Linked DNA regions of Homo sapiens. The protein of the gene in region 3 binds, or shares a complex with, the protein of the main gene of each other region. Each region holds a gene or a part of one and is shown on either strand. Other genes may lie near its edges. The genes, in order: EIF3J, EIF3I and EIF3C.

What was found.
Region 1: EIF3C (region 3) and EIF3J share a complex: the UniProt entries of both Homo sapiens proteins name them as parts of the eukaryotic translation initiation factor 3 (eIF-3) complex.
Region 2: EIF3C (region 3) and EIF3I share a complex: the UniProt entries of both Homo sapiens proteins name them as parts of the eukaryotic translation initiation factor 3 (eIF-3) complex.

The regions. Positions count from the first base shown.
Region 1 is NC_000015.10:44,539,999-44,543,746, forward strand, and holds part of EIF3J (eukaryotic translation initiation factor 3 subunit J), read left to right. Parts: intron 1-3,748. UniProt on the Homo sapiens protein: Component of the eukaryotic translation initiation factor 3 (eIF-3) complex, which is required for several steps in the initiation of protein synthesis.
Region 2 is NC_000001.11:32,220,701-32,224,448, forward strand, and holds the start of EIF3I (eukaryotic translation initiation factor 3 subunit I), read left to right. Parts: upstream 1-1,706; 5' UTR 1,707-1,741; coding exon 1,742-1,744; intron 1,745-1,837; coding exon 1,838-1,930; intron 1,931-3,333; coding exon 3,334-3,421; intron 3,422-3,709; coding exon 3,710-3,748. Other genes in the region: TMEM234 (transmembrane protein 234), read right to left, coding at 431-497, 1,167-1,318, 1,607-1,622. UniProt on the Homo sapiens protein: Component of the eukaryotic translation initiation factor 3 (eIF-3) complex, which is required for several steps in the initiation of protein synthesis.
Region 3 is NC_000016.10:28,721,404-28,725,151, reverse strand, and holds part of EIF3C (eukaryotic translation initiation factor 3 subunit C), read right to left. Parts: intron 1,989-3,748; coding exon 1,829-1,988; intron 1,705-1,828; coding exon 1,601-1,704; intron 901-1,600; exon of another isoform or gene 831-900; coding exon 689-830; intron 495-688; coding exon 369-494; intron 234-368; coding exon 140-233; intron 1-139. UniProt on the Homo sapiens protein: Component of the eukaryotic translation initiation factor 3 (eIF-3) complex, which is required for several steps in the initiation of protein synthesis.

The DNA.
Region 1 (3,748 bases), on a different chromosome or scaffold from region 3:
GCACGATCTTGGCTCACTGCAACCTCCGCCTCCCAGGTTCAAGCAGTTCTCTGCCTCAGCCTCCCGAGTAGCTGGGATTACAAGCGCCCACCACCACACCCAGCTAATTTTTGTATTTTTAGTAGAGACGGGGTTTCACCATCTTGGCCAGGCCGGTCTTGAACTCCTGACTTCGTGATCCACCCGCCTCGGCCTCCCAAAGTGCTGGGATTACAGACGTGAGCCACCGCGCCTGGCTATATATATATATATATATATATATATATATATTTTTTTTTTTTTTTTGTAGATACAGGGTTTCGCCATGTTACCTAGGCTGGTCTCAAACTCCTGAGGTCAAAGTGATCTTCCCGCCTCGGCCTCCCAGAGTGCTGGGATTACAGATGTGAGCCACTGCACCTGACCTATTTATTTTGAGACGGATTTGTGAGACTGGCTAATTTTTGTGTTTTTGGTAGAGGTGGAGTTTCGCCAAGTTGCCCAGGCTGGTCTCAAACTCCTGAGGTTAAAGCGATCTTCCCGCCTTGGCCTCCCAGAGTGCTGAGATTACAGGTGTGAGCCACTGCACCTGGCCTATTTATTTTGAGACAGATTTGTGAGACTGGCTAATTTTTGTGTTTTTGGTAGAGATAGAGTTTCGCCAAGTTGCCCAGGCTGGTCTCGAACTCTTGGAGTCAAGTGATCTATCCTCCTCAGCCTCCTAAAATGCTGGGATTATGGGCGTGAGCCAGCAGACTCAGCCATATCACCAAATTTCTGAATTCTTATGTTTTTGTACTTTTTATGAGGAGTTGCAGACAAGGCTTAGTTTCCGTGAGGTCTTCTGTTCATGTCAGCATCTAGTACTTAACCTTTAAAAATACAGGTTTAATGTCATTTGTAATGTCCTGGGAAATGAAAGGAAAACTGATGTTTTTGTTATTATAATTTGCTCCAGCACTTTACTCTCATTTAGTAGACTTAGTATTTTGCTGTCCTTGACTTTTCAAATAGCTGTCTGGCAGTGGCAGAAGTGGACTTAGGTGAAACTGTACAACCGTTAATATATATGGCAAGAAAAGACTATGCTTTTCCCCAGTTAAAAAGATGAGAACTCGGGAGCATAGTTTCCCATCACCCTGGCTTTATTTACCTTTTTTACTATCCTGATAGTTGTGCAGAGGTAGTGGGAAGAATTGTTCACTTGGCATATATGACTCCTTCCTCATTGCTGGTATGATATGTAGGATGTGTTGACTGAGAAGGCAGTGAGTACCTACTGGACACAAGGACAACATAACTTTTGCTCCATTTTACTAGTCTCCTAGCATTTCAGTAGAACAGTTTAGAAGCTAGATTTATTCAAAGGGTACAGAGTTTGCAGAAACTTATAGCTGTGTTCAGCCATCTCACGCATTTGCCTCTGTAACCATATAGCATTTCTTTTAAAAGATCCTGAAGAGGCTGAGGCAAGAGGATTGCGTGAGCCTAGGAGTTTGAAGCCAGCCTGGGCAACATAGCAAGACCCCAACACATTTAAAGAGAGAGCGATCCTGAAGAACAGATTTAGTTGAGCCTCTCTCGTCCTACTCATTCACTCTCTGTTAGGATCCTATTCCAATAAATAGTTTGAATCTACCAGATAGGGACAATTTTCAGGGGTTGGAAACAACTTCTAAAGAACAGGATCTGTATTTTACAGAATGTGAAATTACTAGGAAATACCCAGAAGGTGGGCATTTTGCCAGAAAATGGGTATTTTGAAGAGAGTGTGTGTATGTGTAACTTAAGAAAAATTCCAAACATGCAGTAGAGAGAAACATTTAATAAACCAGTGACCAGTCTTGTCTCCTCTGTATCCCCACTTTCCTCCTCCAACCAGATTATTTTCAAGAAAATCTCAATCATATCATTTCATACCCTGCCACTTTTATAAACTAGCAAGTTTTGAATTAGGAAGCATGTTTGTTATTGAAAAATATTTTCTTGTCATGATGGATCATTGTAAATAAACCACTTGTTTAGTGTTCAGTGTCTTGATATCGCTGAGCCAGAAATTTAAAGTAGATTGATAACTGTCCTGAATATGAGACAGGTAGGCATTGAGATGGAACTCAGCTGAGTGCTGATCCATTGTAGTATGTTAAAAGCTTAATGAATTGAATTAAATGAAGTAGAATTTACTAAGGCAGGCACCTTGGCTTCTAGGCACCCAGCATAGTTCTGAGATGGTGGAAGAACATTTTGGCTTTTAAAAAACTGAACTTTGCTGGGAAGTCTACCCTTGCCAAGATCTCGTTGCACAGTTCTGAGTTCTCTCAGAACTGCACAGCTTACAGAACACAAATTAAAGGCTTTTTTTTTCTTTCCCAGCAAGAGATTATGTTTTACCTAAACCAAATTATTTAAAGAAAAAAGGAGAAGGAGTATATGTTAGTTCCTAGGCTGTTGCTATAGGGCAAAAGAGTTTTATTGCTCGTTTGAAGCTACTTCTATTTGACAATCTATAAATACATCTTGCTTAAGTTGGAAAGCATTTTCAGCCCTAAATGTGTTCTCATTGCATGTGACATAATGTAGTTTTATATTATGAAGACAGAACCAGCTAACTACTGGCCACATTGTTAGAAATAAAAAGAAAGCAAGATATAAAGTTTTCTGCTTTGCTTCTGATACTTAGTTGTGTTCAATTAGGGAAGCAAGTTTTAAAGTTAAAAAGCAGCCATCTCTTTCATAGAAATAGCTTAAATGATGGGTGTGTATCTGCAGGGCAAGAGTATAGATAAGCAAGTAGTTTATAAACAGGCCCTATTCTAAGAAGCTAGCCATTTTAGGAGAGCAGCCTGGGTGATTCTTTTGAAGATAAATTGGATATTATAGTTGAAAGATTAATTGGCTACCAAAAATAATTGGGTAAAGGATTTAATTGGATGTTCATAGGTAGTCTCTTGAACCAAATAACCATTTAGGGCTCTTTGAAGTGAGTTGTAGACTTGCTCCCTATTTTAAGTGTTAATTTTAGCTGTTTCTCTAGGAAGCCTTTTTACATTTTATCTGAATTTGCTGCTGGAATTTACAAACTTCTAATGTTTACAAAAAATTGGGCATATTTTTTGAAGCAGCGTGGTGAACATTCTACCTTAAATCTACTTTTCAGACACTTAATTTTATAACTATGGAAACAAAAACTCTAACTTCCTGGGGAAAGCTACCTGGCCTTTTGCTTTTATAATTACATCTGTTTGGAAGTGTGACCAGTCTCTTTTTGCTGACACTTACTATGCTCCTTTCTTTAGGGGCTTAGTGCTAGTTTGGTAGTAACTTCAGGGCAGACTTGTAAGCACTTTGGGGAGAGAGTGACAGTCAAGGTTTGGATGGTCCTTTTATGAATTGAGGAGCAGATGTCATGGCTCTTCTTGGTACATGTTGATAGGAACCACTTTTTTTTTTTTTTTTTGAGATGGAGTTTCGCTGTCTCCAGGCTGGAGGGCAGTGGCGCAGTCTCGGCTTACTGCAACCTCCGCCTCCTGGGTTCAAGCGATTCTCCTGCCTCAGCCTCCCAAGTAGCTGGGACTACAGGTGTGCGCCACCACACCCAGCTAATTTTTGTATTTTTAGTAGAGATGGGGTTTCACCATGTTGGCCAGGATGGTCTCGATCTCTTGACCTCGTGATCTGCCTGCCTTGGCCTCCCAAAGTGCTGGGATTACAGGCATGAGTCACCACGCCTGGCCAGAATCACTTCTTTTGCTACTAAAATCCATTCTGT
Region 2 (3,748 bases), on a different chromosome or scaffold from region 3:
CTCTGACTGTGTGCCAGGCACTCTCCTAGATGTTTCCCATTCATTAAATTTAATCCTCACAATGCTATGAAGCCAACTATATAAAACCAAGGCTCAAATGGGTGACTTGCTCATGGTCAGGTAGGTAGCACACAGTGGAAGCAAGAATGTGAAAGCCAGCACTTGGCACAGCAAAATGAACCTTCCTTCTTCCTCCGCTGGTCACACATGACTGCCAGGCTTCAAACCAACTCCAGTGCCTAGCAACATACTCATAACCAGCACACTGTGCCCCTCTTGTTCAGAGAAGAGGATAGTAAGAGGGAACTAGAGCTAGTCAGCCCTCTCTCACTGATGGGAATGAGGTGTTTCAAGCTCCACCCCGCCCCCCCCAATCACTCTTCCAGGTGGCCTCAAACACTAAGCAGAACAGTTCCAAGCCAGGACCCACCTGTCGATGCCAAGGTGAGGTAATAGAGAAGGGATCCACACTGGTTGAGGAGAAAGGGCATCAGGTACTGGAAAGAGGAGAAACCTGCAGTCAGTGTGATGGCCTGACTGAGCAGCACTGCCTTCTTTGAGCTCCTAGCGAATGTCTTTCCTTGGAGGGAGGCAGGGTTATAAGGACCCAGAGAACACTAATCCCTCTAAGGAGGATCCTTCCAGGGCAAAGAGGGAAACAGACTGAAGTCTGTGCCTTTGCTCAAACTACCCTCTCCCTCACCTCTGCTAGTTCCCATCCTGCAAGGCCTTGAAGCCAATGTCAGCCCCTCCAGGAAGCCTTCCCCAAGTCCTCCAGCTCCAGCCTTCCTCCTCTGAACTCCTCCCCTGCAGGGCCAATTTGAGCCCCAAGCCCTCCCTCTGGAAAGGCTCACAAATGTTGCCTTATGTAACTGAAGGAATCACAATAAAATGTGAATAATGGCAGCCATAGATTGAGCACTTACTATGTTCTAGGCCTAATGCTAAGTGCTCTACGTATCTCACCTAATTCCTGCAACTGACCTATCAGATGGTTATTATTATAATCGCCATTTACAGATGATGAAACTGAGGCTCAAGGACAACTGACTTTTCCGAGAATTTCTAGTGAGTAAGTGGTGGGGCTGACCCAGACCTGTTTGACTCCAAAGACCAAATTCTTGGCGGCAACTCCACCGAGAGAGGGGCCTTTCACAGAGACGCACCTCAGTATTCAAGAAGAGGGTCTTCATCTCCTGTAGCAACTGCTGGGCCCAGGTCGGCTCATGAACCCGCTGCAGGCCGGCGGAGGCCCGCTTCAGCAGCGGCTGCGTGCCACCCCACAGAGCGGCCACCAGCACCAGAGCCAACACCTGCCCTGAATGCAGACGAGTGAGTCACCCTGACCCCCACCCCAAACGGCCGCCCACCCCGCCCTCTCCTGGCCTTCTAGCCCCAGCTAGCCGCCCCCACTTCCCTCCTTCGCTCTCTTCGCCTCGGCTGCGACTGGCGGCTAAGGCAGGCCCAGGGAAGCTAGGGAGATGAATCCAGGAGTCCGGCCTCTGGGGTTGTAGCAGGGGTCGGGGTTAGAGGGTGGATGTGGAGCAGGAAATGAATTCGAGGCGAGGGTCGGGAAATCCATGGAAGGGCGGGGCCGGCTACCTACCCAGAGACGCCGCCATGGCAACGCCGCTGTCTTCTACTTCCGGGAACGAAGGGGCGGAGACCCATAATCCGGAAGTGACCTCGAAACCTTTTCCGGTCTTACTCACGTTGCGGCCTTCCTCGCGTCACAGCCGGGATGGTGAGTTTCAGAGTTAGGGGTATTGCAGTGGGGGTCCTGGGCTGAGGCTGGGGCCCAATTCCGAGCACTGACGTTACTGTCTTGTCCCCACAGAAGCCGATCCTACTGCAGGGCCATGAGCGGTCCATTACGCAGATTAAGTATAACCGCGAAGGAGACCTCCTCTTTACTGTGGCCAAGGACCCTGTGAGTGTTGGCTGGAGGGGGTCCGGGAGGGGCGGGATCCTTCTGCCAGGACGATGGGTGGACACGCCAGTTTTGCCGTTAGCGGGGAACCAAAGAGCAGCCCATTGTGAGAAGTAGGGAGAGGCCATGCCGGGGGTAGGTTGGCGAAAGTATTCTACCGGGAAAGGTGGGGAAGAACTCTATTGGCCGAGTGCGGTGGCTCACGCCTGTAATCCCAGCACTTTGAGAGGCCGAGGTGGGAGGGTCGCTTGAGCCCAGGAGTTGGAGACCAGCCTGAGCAACGTAGTAAGACCCATCTCTACACACAAAAAAATTAGCCTGACATGGTGGCCTCGCGCCTGTGGTCTCAGCTACTTCGGAGTCTGAAACGAGAGGATCGCTTGAGCGCGGTGAGCTGAGATCGTGCCACTGCACTCCAAGAAAAGCAAGAGACCACTGTGGAAAGGGGATAAAGATGAGGGTCAGCTTGCCCAGAGAACGGGATGCGACCTTTAGGGATAATCTAATCTTTCTACCAGGATAGGTGCAGGCTGTGTTATTCAGACACAGGGAACTTAATGAGGGTGTCTCTAGTCTCATTTTAAGTCAATCCCATCCTGCTACTCAATGCCAAACAATCCCTCATGATACTGCCTTTTGAGGCACCTGGCCATTTTATTTTATTTTTTCTTGAGACGGAGTCTCGCTCTGTCGCCTAGGCTGGAGTGCAGTGGCGCGATCTCGACTCACTGCAACCTCTGCCTCCCAGGTTCAAGCGATTCTCCTGCCTCAACCTCCCTAGTAGCTGGGACTACAGGCTCGTGCCACCATGCCCAGCTAATTTTTTGTATCTTTAGTAGAGATGGGGTTTCACCATGTTGGACAGGCTTGTCTTGAACTCCTGACCTCAGGTGATCCGCCTGCCTCGGCCTCCCAAAGTGCTAGGATTACAGGCATGAGTCACCACACCCGGCCTGGCCATTTTCAAGATGAGAAAACTGAAGTTCAGAGGAGAGAAGCACTGTATTTGAGATCATATAGTGAGACAGTGGCAGAGCAGGCACCAGAACCCAGACTTCCTTACTACCAGCTGCTCCCACTTGGATAAGACATCAGAGATACTGTTTTTCTGGACTGGAGCTCAACTTGGCCTTTTATTCTTTGGAGCCGTTGGGAGTCCCAGGAGAGCTGGAGCTAACAAATGAGGATGCCTTTACAAGCCGCCTGACTCCTCTGTTGCTTCCCTTCAGGAAGGGAGGAGAATCCAGGAGTTGGTCTTTTTACCAGCTCCCTGCTGTTTCCCAAGAAATAAACAGAAGAGGGCAGAATCAGCCTTGCTACAGGCTGCTGAGGGTTCCTGGGGCAAAATAGGAAGCCATTGCTCTTACTGGGATGTGTACTATCCTGTGGTTTGACTTTTCCAGATCGTCAATGTATGGTACTCTGTGAATGGTGAGAGGCTGGGCACCTACATGGGCCATACCGGAGCTGTGTGGTGTGTGGACGCTGACTGTATCCTTATTTTGGGTCTGAGTCCGTGTTGCTAGGGTCTGTCAGCGATGGAGAGGCTGAGTTGGGAGTTGGGAGTTGGGGGTGCTGTTGAGGGCCTAGAGAACGATACCTCCTACTCCCTGGTCTCTTCACTGACTGAGGAAACATTCAGGACAAATTCCAGTTCTGGATAAGGAGGTAAGAGGGGTAGAAAGGCTCTTTGGGGCTGAACAGGGAGATGATTCACTTGGCATCCCAAGAGGACAAGGGCTCGGGTGAACTTCGTCATATTTCTTAACAACTCTTCAGGGGACACCAAGCATGTCCTCACTGGCTCAGCTGACAACA
Region 3 (3,748 bases):
CCTTCCGTGTGAACGCTAGGTAAGTTGAAAGGCTGGCTTTTCAAGCACTCTGACTTAGTATAATCCTCACAAAGCTCTAAACCTAGTAATATTCCCCACAATTTTCCTCTCAGCAAAGCCCACGCTTGCTCAGGCTCACCTTGGGAGTGAGGGTCAGTATTTTGCATTATTTTGGTAAATTCTTCATCCATTCGTTCCACCAGAGTTAGGATGCAGCCACGGACACGCAGTGGCTGAAAAGGAAGGCGAAGGAGGAGTCAACAAATTAGCCCAGATCTCAGTCTCAAACCTCAACCCTCGGGTCCCACTGAGCCTTCCCAAAGCATAAAATACACACCTCCAGTTATCCTGCCAACTCCTCCCTTTACCTGGTCAGCGTTGTGCAGGTTCTCACTCTCTTCCAGAATATTCTCTCCAACAAAAATGTTGGGATTTGCAAACAGGATATCCATCAGCTCATTGATGCAGTCCAGGCACTTCCCCCACATCTCTGGCTGCCAAGATTTCAGGCCACATCAGAGTCAGAGGTGTGAAGGTAGAGTAAGCGGATGCCTCCCCCTTCAGCAGGAATCATGGGGCCTTCCACCACCAAGACTGCCTCCATAGCCCCTGAGTCTTAAGATGCTAGGTACCTTCTTCCCCCAACCCACCAGCGATGCCCTGAGATGAGCCTCTTCACTGCTCTCACCTTCATGTAGGTTGCCAGGTTGGGGTTGTAGTCATAGAGAGAGGCGATGATATTGAACTTGATCTTGACAATGACGCCCTCTCCCAGGTTGTTTTCCGCTGCAATCTGAACCAGCAGTTGCAGCAGCTCAATCTGGGCAGCACTAGAGGGCCAGAGAGCTGGGTGAGGCTTTGGAGACAAATCACAAAGTCTCTCCCAGCATGCCCGCTTCGGATAACGCGCCCTCCTCATCACCCATATCCCTGCTTCTCCTTTATAAATTCCAAACAGAAGCAACAATAATCCCAACCATCCTGGAATGCTGTGAAATGCTTCACACCTACCACCATCCTCTGTTACCTAATAACTAAAGAAGGTAAACACTCTTTTACTTTTTTAATCTTAAAAAAAAAAAAAGCCAGGTGTGGTAGCTCATGCCTGTAATCCCAGCACTTTGGGAGGCTGAGGCAGGCGGATCACTTGAAGTCAGGAGTTCGAGACATGGTGAAACCCCATCTCTACTAAAAGTACAAAATCAGCCAGGGATGGTGGCGGGTTCCTGTAATCCCAGCTACTCAGGAGGCTGAGGCAGGAGAATCGGTTGAACCCAGAAGGCAAAAAGGTTGCAGTGAGCCGAGATCGCGCCAGTGCACTCCAGCCTGGGCAACAACGAGACTCCATCTCAAACAAAAAAAAAAAAAAAAAAAAAAAGAGGAGAACATTATCTCATTGTATAGATGGGAAAACAGATCCAAAACGTTAAGTGATTGGTTTTAAGTCACAAGAAGAGTAAACAGCAGATAATGGACGGGGATGCCCCAAGCATACAATTCCCTCTACTACAGCCACACACAGACCCTCCCAACAATCCCTTCCCCCAACCTCCACCCTCTGCCACCCTGCAATCCCACTGCCCAGGCCCACGAATCTTACCGATCAGTTCCCTTCTTGCCTCGTGCCTGTAGGATCTCATTCAGTTTCTTGATAACAACAGCATGGGTGATCTCAGTTCCCTTGGCAAACATTTTTGGCTTCTCCTGTATCAGCACATATCCCGTCATGTACATGCCAGCGGGAAACTGTCCTTGCCTTTTCCCCACAAGGGGACCTTTATGTCCTCCCAAACTGTTCCCCAATTCATTTTACCTCTGAAACCCTCACCTTAACCAACGGCACTCCGCCCCGGACCCTTTCCCACTCCCCGCCTTCATTGTCCTCCTCCTCCTCATCCAGGCGCTTGGATTTCCTGTCGTGCTTCTTCTTAGCTTTGTCCTCCCGTTTCTTCTCGGCTGCCTTCTTGTCCTCATCTGTGGTGGGTGCCCTGCCGACAGACATGGGAGAAGATGACAGATCAGCCCCTCCCCACCTCTAAGGCTTCTTCCTCCCATCAACTTCCTCTTTTCCTCCAGCAGCTCCTGGGTCCAAGTTATGCTCTACAACAATGACCTAGAGGGCACAGTGAACCATAACCATAGCCATCTCTAACAAGACAGAGTACTAACCAGGCCACTGTAGACATATTAATAGAAACAACCTGTCAGCTAAGCATGGTAGATCACTTGACGTCAGGAATCCAAGACCAGCCTGGGCAACATGGTGGAACCCCATCTCTACTAAAAGTACAAAAATTAGCCAGGCATGGTGGTGCACGCCTGTAGTCCCAGCTACTTAGGAGGCTGAGGCACGAGAATCACTTGAACTTGGGAGGCAGAGAAGGCTGCAGTGAGCCACAATCATGCCACTGCACTTAAGCCGGGGTGACAGAGCAAGACTCAGTCTCCAAAAAAACAAAACAAAACAAAACAAAAAAAAACCAACCTGTCATTTTGCTCCAAAGCTAACATCTACAGTTTTCCAAAGAATCCACAAACAACTTATTTTCTTTGATACCAGCTGCTTTCTCCAGACTGACCAACTAATCAATGAATCAGTTCCCCCAAATATATAAAAACATTTTTTTCTTTTTTACTATTCCTAAACTGTTTTATCGCTTTCTCTCCTCTCTTGACAACCGATTAATCTAAATTCTGAATTTAAAAAAAATGTTCATTACAAAAAAGGTCCCCACAAAACAGAAAAAGATCACCAGCTACCTTAAAATGGTCTTAGGCTACTGGATGTTGCCTGAAACCATCTCCAGACTTGAGTATGTATTTATGTAACAAAATACAAACCAAATGGCAAAGACAAATTACTTCAAACTTTGCACAGATACTGAAGAATAAATCTTTCCAGAAAGACTCAACATTTTTGAAAACTCATATGTAATAACCATAATCTACCATTTGAACATTTATAAATAAATTTCATTTTCACTGCTTAAAAGGTTTGAATATGTTTTTGGAATAGTCTATAAGTTTACCAGTTAAATTAAGTCTTCCCTTGCCAGAAGACCAATGCCATAACTCTCAACAAAAGTGTATGGACTGGCCAAGCACGGTGGCTCAAGCCTGTAATCCCAGCACTTTGGGAGGCCGAGGTGGGCGTATTGCTTGAGCCCAGGAGTTTGAGACCAGTCTGGGTGACAAGGTAAAAAGCCCGTCTCTATTAAAAACAACAACAACAACAACAACAACAACAACAAAAGCTTATGGATCTTTCCCCTGTACCACTGCAAGACTCTAATGATGACTCACTTTATAGGTAAAATCCTTTGCAAATATGCAAAGCATGTTCATTAAACTAAAACCTCTTGGTCCAAACCATCTGTATAGCTCTGAGATCAGAAGAACTAAAGCTATTTTTTAAAATGAATGCTTCAAAAGAACTTAAACTTCCTTGGCTAAAGTATTACTTCTAGCACTAAAGATAGTATGATACACACCTCAAAAGGGAAATGTACTATTGTATGAAATTCTAACTGAAAGACCTAAGACTTGGCTTGACCTCTCCTATGACAGATTATACTCTGGTATATTCATATCTTGTTAGAAATTATCAGATAACAAATGTTTATATCCTCAGCTATATAATCAACAGATAAAAGCAACATTTCTAAACGAGTATTACCTCTACTTAATACATAGTTAAGAGACTAAAAACTCATTATTGAGAGACACCAACGGAAGTCAGGCCTAACTA